Regions from separate parts of the Homo sapiens genome. Here region 2 is linked to region 1. A link means that fine-mapping ties the variant in region 1 to the expression of a gene that starts in the linked region. Tissue or cell type: whole blood. Region 1 holds a variant in brackets; the other region holds the start of a gene. All regions are shown on one strand. Distances are between the middles of the regions. Region 1 overlaps PRKG1 (protein kinase cGMP-dependent 1). Region 2 holds the start of CSTF2T (cleavage stimulation factor subunit 2 tau variant).

What was found.
Region 2: CSTF2T starts here. The variant in region 1 is fine-mapped to the expression of CSTF2T in whole blood (INTERVAL, PIP 0.95).

The regions. Positions count from the first base shown.
Region 1 is chr10:51,915,906-51,921,293 of GRCh38, reverse strand. The region is part of intron 5 of PRKG1 (protein kinase cGMP-dependent 1); the gene reads right to left. Among named protein-coding and RNA genes, the nearest start is that of CSTF2T, 220 kb to the right of the region's middle. The variant T/A (reference allele first, on the strand shown) is at 2,072.
Region 2 is chr10:51,697,145-51,702,532 of GRCh38, reverse strand. It overlaps CSTF2T (cleavage stimulation factor subunit 2 tau variant), which reads left to right and starts at 2,938. Exons shown (of 1, transcript NM_015235.3): 1 at 2,938-5,388. The coding sequence starts at 2,984. The coding sequence ends at 4,834. The region is part of intron 3 of PRKG1 (protein kinase cGMP-dependent 1); the gene reads right to left. RefSeq lists a silencer at 1,810-2,104 and enhancers at 1,858-2,546, 2,671-3,250.

The sequences.
Region 1 (5,388 bases):
TAGTAAGTGATTATAGAAAGGTAGCAAGATACAAGGTTAATATATAAAAGTCAATTGATTTCCTATATACTCGCATGAATAATTGAAATTTGAAATTAAAAACACAATATCATGTATATTAGCAAAACTACTGAGACAGTAAAAGAGAGGGGATAAGTAGGTGGAAGAGGATTTTTAGGGCAGTGAAACTATTCTGTATGATACTGTAATGATGGATATATGACATTTTTCATTTGGCAAAATCCTAATTCTGGGGGGCAAAACCCAAAGAATAGAACTGTACAACACTCTATGGTAAATTATGGACTTTAATTAAAAATAATATTTTAATCTTGGTTCATCAGTTGTAACAAATGTACCACACCAGTGCAACATGTTAAAAATAGAGGAAACTGTGAGTGGGAGAGAGGGAGTATATGAGAATTCTCTACTTTCTGTTCAGTTTTTCTGTAAACCTAAAACTGCTCTAAAAATAATAAGGTCTACTCATGAGAAAAAAAAGTTATGTTTAAAAGTAAAATTAGAAACAGTTCTATGAGGTAGGTATTATTACTATCCTTCTTTTCCAGAAGAAAACAAATGGAGCTTAGGGGAGTTAAGTAACTTGCTCAAGATCACATAGCTAAGGAATGATTGAACCACAATTAAAGGGTGCTGCCAATATTCAAACCCAGGCATTATAATTATATGGCGATATAAAGATAGATATATAAACACACACATATATGCATACATATATCCATATATGTAGGATCACTATCTCTATTCTGTAGACACGAAACTAAACAGAAAGAGAGAAGACATGAACACTGTAAGATTGTTAATTAGGAGATTCCCATAGGCAAGCACTAAACTGTAACTGGGAAATCGGCAAGATGGCTATCAGAGGCCTTCACATCCTTGTGGAGTGAACAGTAACTGACAACAGTTCAGCTCTCTCCCCGGGGCCTTATACTGGAAAATCAACAACTTCTACAAAAGTTTCTTTCTTCTTCAAAATATCCTTCTAAAGGTTTGGCCTTTGTTATATCTCCCTGGGATGGATAGGGAAAGGAGAAGGATGATAGAAGAAAAATGAGTCTTATTCCTTTCCCATGATCTTTCTGTCCTTAGCTTCCCACACCTTCTTTGTTTTCCACCTTGATTGTGTATCCTTGACAATCTCCTACCAGCAACCTCTACTCTACATGCCCTCATGATGAGTTCTTGTATTTCAGAAGGCATGCTCCCTGTCCTTGATGCATTTTTAATCTAGTTGTGGTAATAAAGCATCCAAATGCAAAACAGAACAATTTTGTTTCATTCATTGGGTCACTCGGGTAGCATGTATGCATTTATTGTAAGCCTACTCAGACTTCTGATTCAACAAATATTTATTGTTTATTTAATAAGTACCAGGCATAATTCTTCCACAAATCCTTGCTGTGCTGGAAACTTGGGATATATGTTAAGACATACCCTGTGCTTAGGTACTTACAGAAAACTGGGAGACAGACAAGTTCCAGGCAATATAGGATCAAGCATGCAGCTTTGTAGTACAAACTGTACAAAAGGATTAAGAAAACAACAAACAGGATAGAGTAGAATTAGTCAGGGTAAGCCACTTTAAAAAAAAAAGGTGGGGGGCTGTTCAATTTGACCTTAAAGAACATTTTTGGAAGAGGAAAGAGGAGTCAGGGAGAGACAACACTCTCATGCCTAGCAATTATTAACATCTGTAATGTAAACTGATTTGCACAAAGTCAAAGCAAAAAAAAAAATCTGCAGAATGGTATTGCACAGCAGGTCTATTTACAAGACAAATCATGTTACGTTTATTAAAATAATAATTTTTAGGTGTAAGTAATAAAAAAGAATGGTAGCTCTTCCCAGAGAGTGAAGAGGAGCTCACTTACAGAATCTCATAATAATTAAGGGAACACGTAGAACATGAGGCAAACAGAACATCCTTTCTCACAACAACTGCCATCTCCCTAAAGCCTTGGTTGGTCACGGTTTGTTCCTCATTAACATTGACTGATTTGAGGAATGCTCATTACTAAAATACTGCCTGCCCTGGTTCAGAGCCTTA[T/A]CTACCAGGAAACAGACTTATACCCCCTGGCCTAAGGAACTGCATGATTCCTTTTCCGCAGGGAAGCAGTAGGTTGCCCTTGCTATGGATTCAGAGAAGTACTCTGTAGTCAAAGGTCTTGGGGAGGCCTGGAACTGAATACCCACATTATCTCCTGCACCACGTTGTTTGATAACTCTCCCTAGCACAAACAAGCTTTGTATTCTGTGGCTAAAACTGAAAGCCCAACTGATTTTCTTATCTTTAGCCTGTTACTTGTAAGCACGAGTGGGCTTCTATTCTTCATTGATTTATGCCTTAGATGCCAACTGTGTACAAGCCCGTGAGCTAGGTTTTCTGGCAGCTACAAATATGTCTCGGATTAAGAAAAAAAAATAGTTGAAAATCTTGGGTCAGGGCAATTTATCTAATTCAGACCAGTGTGCATCACTTGTCCCTGTAAAAGGAATTTGGAGCTCATCGTGATCTGCTCAGATGCTATCAAATGGCATTTTGTAAGCAGATCTCACACACATGCTGAAGGCAGGCTACTAATTTACAGTTTCACACAAATCCACTATTTGTTTACAAACCCCATAAATGACAGCAAATCACACAAATACCAAGCAGGTTTGTGTATTCTTACAGAGCAACCATTTCGAACACTTTCCATGAATGTTTTCTAGAAAGCTGATTTATTGCAGATTGGTTTCCTATTTGCAGAGCACATACATTTTAATGAATTACAAGCAGCATGGAGCAAAGCATGCATATTCTGGCAATAAAATGTCTAGAAACACTTTGTTTCGGGTCTCGTGGAAAGCATAAAATGGATCCCTGTCACAACAAATTTAAAATGCTGACTGAGAAAAAGCTAATTACTCTCACAAAAAAAAAAATAAAAAAAAAATAAGTCAAGTCGATATTTTCAGAAGGAAGTACAACCTATTTAAAAGAAAGAGTCAGGGGTGGGAGAAGTTTTTCTTTTATTAATTCCGCAAACTTTCAAGTTACAATGCAGTATAGTACTGAAAGGTACTGATTCCAGGGTCGGATTGCATAGGGTAAAATACTTCCCCATTTAATTCGCTGTGTTATCTGAGGCTCAGTCTTCCCACCTGCACATTGGGACTAGGAATAATAAGAATAGTACTATTGTTATTACTCAGATGGGATTAGACAAATGGCCTTAGCCTGGCACAGAGTTTGCATCAATAAGTGGAAGGTATTACTGTTGTTTTAATCAAATGCATATAGGAACCCAGTTAAAGGAAATATGAATATAGTTTTGCTTTTAAGGAATTTATATCTCAAGTTATGTTCACATAACTAGACACCAATTTAAAGCAATGAACAAGCATTTGTTTTTTTCTATGTAATGATGGCTAAATTGACTTACAAAATATGGGAGAGGGACCTCTCTATAGGGAGAGAAATAAAAATCACTGAGAATTAGAACTAGGAAGATCTTTGTTGAGAATTAAATACAGAATCTCAGATAGATGCTAAAAAGTTAATATTGTTCAACCACTAAATCAACGTGTAAGTATCTACAACATCCCTACCAAATCTCTTTTACATGCCTACTTTTAAAACATGTATTATTTTTGTTAATACTTAAAATTTCATACTATACTTTGCCATCAGGATATTTGCATGGCTGTCAAGTCAAATGAGACCCCCAAGTACACATTCTTCTTATAAGCCCAAAAGTTTCCTTCATTGAAATTATCACAACTGAAATCAAAGTCCATATGTACTTTTTAATAACAGCTTTAGTGAGACATTATAAAATTTACCCATGTAAAGAATAAATTCAATGGTTTTCGGTATATTCAGAGTTGTACAACCATTGTCACCATCAAATTTTAGAATGTTTTTATCACCCTAAAAAGAAATCCACACTCTTTTTTTTTTTTTTTTTTGAGATGGAGTCTTGCTCTGTTGCTCAGGCTGGAGTGCAGTGGCACGATCTTGGCCCGCTGCAACCTCTGTCTCCCAGGTTCAAGCAATTCTCTTCCCTCAGCCTCCTGAGTAGGTAGGACTACAGGCATGTGCCACCACACCTGGCTAATTTTTTGTATTTTTAGTAGGGATGGGGTTTCACCATGTTGGGCAGGCTGCTCTCAAACTTCTGACTTCAGGTGATCCGCCTGCCTCAGCCTCCCGAAGTGCTGGGATTATAAGCATGAGCCACCGTGCCCAGCCCACACTCTTAATAGTCACTCACCTTCTCCACTGTCCTCCTTCACTAATTTACTTTCTCTATATATAGATTTGTCTGTTTTATATACTTCATGTAAATGAAATCACACAATATGTGTCATTTTACTTTTATTTACTTAACAAAATGCTTTCAAAGTCATCCATGTTGTAGCATATATCAAGTCCTTCACCCATTTTAAAGTCAAGTAATATTTTATTGTATGAATATACCACATTTTATTTACCCATCCATCAGCTGATGACCACTTGGGTTGTTTGCACTTTTTGAATATCATGAATAATAATGCTATCAACCTTTGTGTGTAAGTTTTTGTATAGACATGTGTTTCCAATTCTCTTGGGTATGCACCTAGGAGCAGAATTGCTAGGTCATACAGTTACAAGAAAGGGGTCCTGATCCAGACCCCAAGAGAGGGTTCTTGGATATCACACAAGAAAGAATTCAAGGCGAGTCCACAGAGTAAAGTGAAAGCAAGTGTATTAAGAAAGTAAAGGACTAAAGAATGGCTACTCCATAGACAGAGCAGCCCCCAGGGCTGCTGGTTGCCCATACTGATGGTTATTTATTTCCTGATTATATGCTAAGCAAGGGGTGGCTTATTCATACCTTCCGTTTTTACACCATTTAGGGTAACTTCCTGATGTTGCCGTGGCATTTGTAAACTGTCATGGTGCTGGTGGGAGTATAGCAGTGAGGACGACCAGAGGTCACTCTTGTCACCATATTGTATTAGTTTTGGTGGGTTTTAGCTGGGTTCTTTACTGAAACCTGTTTTATTAGCAAGGTCTTTATGATCTGCATCTTGTGCTGACTTCCTATCTTATTCTGTGAATTAGAGTGCCTTAACTGTCTGGGAATGCAGCCCAGTAGGTTTTAGGCTCATTTTACCCAGCTTCTACTCAAGATGGGGTTGCTCTGGCTCACACACCTCTGACAACGCGGTAACCCCATGTTTAACATTTTGAGGAGTTGCCAAACTGTTTTCCAAAGAAGGCACACCATTTTCCAATCTCACCAGCTATGTGTAAAGGTTCAAATTTCTCTATATCCTTGCCAATACTTGTTATTGTCTATTATGTTTTATTCTAGTCAATATGGTGGGTGTGAGGTA
Region 2 (5,388 bases), 220 kb after region 1:
TCAGAGTGTATGCCATGCTATAAATATCTAAAATTTAAACTTTATGGGAATAAAAAAGCAGTATAAAAATGGATGTTCTTCCAAGTTAGATCTATAAAAAAATATGTACTGGTACCAGGAAATATACATAGGTTTATCTGAGCTCTTGATTTGGGGACATTGAGTTAACAATAAGTATTAGTTCATGTGTTCTGGGCATGGAATTACATGGTGGGTCACACTGGTCCTGTATGAACGGGGGCATGACAAACCATTCTTCTAGTTTGGAACAGTGGGACTAAAGAGAACATGGAAAGCCTGTGACTAAAGCACACTCTACAGTCATAACTTCCCCCTTCTTGTTTGTCCCATAGTCCTTCAGCTACTCTCTGTTCACCCAGTCTTCATGTCCAGGGTATCTTCAGTAGCAGATCAGCATGTACTAGAATAGTATATTAATAGTAAATTCATAATGTTTTAAAAACCTTTACCTCAAACCTTTTAATAGAGTGTACCAAATTTAGTTTGGTCTGATGTAAATGAGAAAATCTACTACCAATCCCTAGGACCAATGATTCTTAAAGATCTCCAAACCAGCAGCATCAGCATCACCTGAGAGCTTATTAGAAATGCAAATTCTCCAGACCTGATAAAGCAGAATCTGACTTAACAAGCCATGGCTCAAGGTGGTTCTGCTACATGTGAAGACCACTGGTTTAGACAGTATCAGCAGTAAAGAAACTCTGTCAAGATGTGCAATCTTCTACGAATTTTGCAACATATTATAATACCCCATTACCATCTTCATGATTACTACATTTAATACACACACAATTACACACATATTCAACTTGTAAGTTACCCTTGACAGAATGTGTATAAAAAAGGTATGCCTTCTCTTTGTAAAGTGATGGTATAGAAGGAAGAAAAATAGATTTGTCTTTAGTTTTTTTAAATGATACTATCCTTAACCCCTCCCCTTTCGTCCCCAATAAAAGAATCACACTGGGGAAACATTGCTAGCAGGTGACTATTCCGTTTCTTTGACATAGCAGGAAAATCTTATTAGGTGATGTAAATGAACCTTGTCACTTGCAAATATAAACTGTCGCGCATCTTGGGTGAACAGCTAAGTGCAGAACTGTTTCAAAAACTTGAAGGTAAATGGATGTCTTATTTGCAGCTAAACCATCATACTCATGTCAAATCTATTCATTGGAATAGGATACTGAAGATACATAATACAATTTTTTTGCTGAAATTTAAAAGTTTCATAATCCACTTAAGAGGCATATTTCAGAATAAAATAATTCTCTGTTTTGGAATTAAAGCACAGGCTTGGAGCAGTCCAGTCCACAGAAGTATAATGCAATCTATCCATATAATTTTAAATTTTCTAATAGCCACATTTAAAAAAGTAAAATGAAATGAATAACATTAACTTCAAAATAATTTTTTACTCAAATATATAAAAATATTACATTTCGACTTATAAAAAATATAAAATTGATGGGCTATTTTTACTTTTTTTGTATTTGATCATTAAAATCTTTCATGTATGTTACATGTATGGCACACCTCAACCAGTATGTTAAATTTTGACTGGAAATACTTTCTTTTTATTTGTTTTTATTTTTTGTCTTAGTGTTCTTCAAAATGATTTTTATTTAGAACACAATTTATTATTGCAAAAGTAGATTCTATATCCAAGTTGTTCTAAATACTAAAAAAGTTTTCCAATAGCTTACTGAACATTAGTTTTTATATTTAAATAAAAAATGAGATTTAAAATTCATTTCTTCAATCACACTAGCTTCATTTCATATATTCAATACACGTAAGGCAGTGTAGAATTGGAGCTATGCGAGACCAAGCTGGGTTAGAATCCTGACTTGGCCTCTTTCCAGCTGCTTGTCCTTGGGAATTTACCTAGCCCTCTCCAAGCTTCAGTTCTAGCTTCGAATTGCAGGCGGGGAAACACCACACTGAATATGTTTTAACTCCTACCTGCAAAGCTAACAGCAGAAGACAAACACCCGCTATTTGTTTCTCCCTTCATGGAAGTGGTGGACTCACTGCATGATATAATAAAAATCAGAACCAATCAACGTAGGGATAGTTAAGTAAATTTCTTTATTCCATACTCTGAAGCCATAAAATACTAATAACTAATTAATCACTAATTTATTTAATCACCAATTAATATTGAAATCGGTTGTTATTAAGGAAGAAAACCGTAATATTAGGAATAGCACGACGGCTGCCCGTGTGCTCAGGAAAAACCTAGAAGGGTCTGCCACCCATCCATTAACAGCGGTTATAGGAAGCAACAGAATGGGGGCAGGGCCCAGCCGGCACACGCTTCAGTTTATATTTCTTGTCAGTTAATTTCCAAAAACGTTGTTCTAAAAAGGAGATATAATACTGTTTTAGTTTAAGGGGCAAATCTCAAATGTGCTGAAACGACTACGCTTTTCCCTCAGTCTGGAATGTGATTTTAAATCTAGCTTAACTATACTATAATAAAAGGCCACATGAAAATACTTTGTCAGAACGAAAAACACGCCGCCTTAAATCCGCTTTCGGTTGGCGGTTTCCCGCCAGCGGAACGGAAGCAAAACCGCCTTTGACGTCAAGGGAAGAGTCCCCTCCCAGTTACTACGGTGAAGTCTATGCGGCCATCTTTACTGTGGTCATCTCGTACCAAGCGTGTCGTAGTGGGGCTGTTGGGGCCCCACAGAAAGTCAGCGGAACGTGAAATGGGAAAGGAATCATGCGACTCTGTAATAAGAAGCTGACAGAACCATGAAGGATCAGGGACTGAAAGCATTAGATAAGTTGTTAGTGGGATGCAGGTTCCACAGGCAAGCGGAACGATTCAAGCGAATTAGTAAAGTTTCTGCCCGGATCTTGAAAGCCGCTTCCGTTGCTCAGCGGAAGTGTCGGTCGCAAGAGGACAGACGCCTCGAAGAATCCGCTATCGGCTGTCTGCACAACCGGAATCATGTCGAGTTTGGCGGTGAGAGACCCGGCAATGGATCGATCACTGCGTTCCGTGTTCGTGGGGAACATTCCATATGAGGCAACTGAGGAGCAGTTAAAGGACATTTTCTCGGAGGTTGGTTCTGTTGTCAGTTTCCGGCTGGTATACGATAGAGAGACGGGAAAACCCAAGGGCTATGGCTTCTGCGAATACCAAGACCAGGAGACCGCGCTTAGTGCCATGCGGAACCTCAATGGGCGGGAGTTCAGTGGGAGAGCGCTTCGGGTGGACAATGCTGCCAGTGAAAAGAATAAGGAGGAGTTAAAGAGCCTTGGGCCTGCAGCGCCCATTATTGACTCACCCTATGGGGATCCCATCGATCCAGAAGATGCCCCTGAATCGATTACCAGAGCAGTAGCCAGTCTCCCCCCGGAGCAGATGTTTGAGCTGATGAAGCAGATGAAGCTCTGTGTCCAAAACAGCCACCAGGAAGCTCGAAACATGTTACTTCAAAATCCACAACTGGCTTATGCACTGTTGCAGGCACAAGTAGTGATGAGAATCATGGATCCAGAGATTGCTCTGAAAATTCTGCATCGGAAGATACATGTCACACCACTGATCCCAGGCAAATCTCAGTCTGTGTCTGTCTCTGGCCCTGGCCCTGGCCCTGGCCCTGGGCTCTGCCCAGGACCTAATGTTCTGCTGAACCAGCAGAATCCTCCAGCTCCTCAGCCTCAGCATTTGGCTAGAAGACCTGTGAAGGACATTCCTCCTCTGATGCAGACTCCTATCCAGGGTGGAATTCCAGCTCCAGGGCCAATACCAGCTGCAGTTCCCGGAGCTGGTCCTGGTTCCTTAACTCCTGGAGGAGCAATGCAGCCCCAACTTGGAATGCCAGGGGTTGGCCCAGTGCCTTTAGAGCGGGGACAAGTGCAGATGTCAGATCCTAGAGCTCCTATACCTCGCGGACCCGTGACTCCTGGTGGTCTGCCTCCTCGAGGACTGTTAGGAGATGCTCCAAATGACCCACGTGGAGGGACTTTGCTTTCAGTCACTGGAGAAGTGGAGCCCAGAGGTTATCTGGGTCCACCCCATCAGGGTCCCCCCATGCATCATGCCTCTGGTCATGACACTCGTGGCCCTTCCTCACATGAGATGAGGGGAGGGCCATTAGGAGATCCCAGACTGCTAATTGGAGAGCCCAGAGGCCCCATGATAGATCAAAGGGGTCTACCTATGGATGGTAGAGGTGGTAGAGATTCTCGAGCGATGGAGACTCGTGCCATGGAAACTGAGGTCTTAGAGACACGTGTAATGGAGAGGAGAGGAATGGAGACCTGTGCGATGGAAACCAGAGGGATGGAAGCAAGGGGCATGGATGCAAGAGGATTGGAGATGAGGGGCCCTGTCCCCAGTTCAAGAGGCCCTATGACTGGTGGAATTCAGGGTCCTGGTCCCATTAATATAGGGGCAGGTGGCCCTCCTCAGGGACCCAGACAGGTCCCAGGCATTTCAGGGGTGGGGAATCCTGGAGCTGGTATGCAGGGTACAGGCATACAAGGAACAGGCATGCAGGGAGCAGGCATACAAGGAGGAGGGATGCAGGGGGCAGGCATACAAGGAGTCAGTATACAAGGAGGAGGTATACAAGGAGGAGGTATACAGGGGGCAAGCAAGCAAGGTGGAAGCCAGCCTAGCAGTTTTAGTCCTGGGCAGAGCCAGGTCACTCCACAGGATCAGGAGAAGGCAGCTTTGATCATGCAGGTTCTTCAACTGACTGCAGATCAGATTGCCATGCTGCCCCCTGAGCAAAGGCAGAGTATCCTGATTTTAAAGGAACAAATCCAGAAATCCACTGGAGCGTCTTGAAAGGTTTTAGAAAATATTTGGCTGTAGTCTCAAATTTTATTCTGTAGCATGGAGAATGGGTGCAAAAAGCTGACTTCTGTATCCCCACACTTGGATTAGGGTTTCCCTCCTCCTAGAACCTAATCTTATTTTTTGTTCTTTTTCTTTCTTTCTGTTTTCCTTTTTTTTTTAATTGAGGGTGGGGGGAGGAGGGAGTGCGTCTGTTCACTTTAAGTTACTTTAAAATAACTCTGAACATGATTATATTATGCCAAATAAGATTACAAAGAATAAGCAGCAATATTGAAGCATCTACAGTATGTTAACTACATTTTTTAAATGTCGAGTAAAACTTCGTGAAAACTGCTCATAAAGACTAAAAGTTGACCTGTTAAAACGTTAATGTACTAAGATAGTTTTAAGATTTTTGGTTGTATAACAAAATAAAAGTTTACCCAAAAGTATAAGATACATTTTTTGGTAAACCATTTAAAATACAAAATCCTATTTTGGAGGCAATAGGATAAGCATTGTCTTAGTGTTTTAGAATTATTTTTGAAACAGAGTTAACAGGA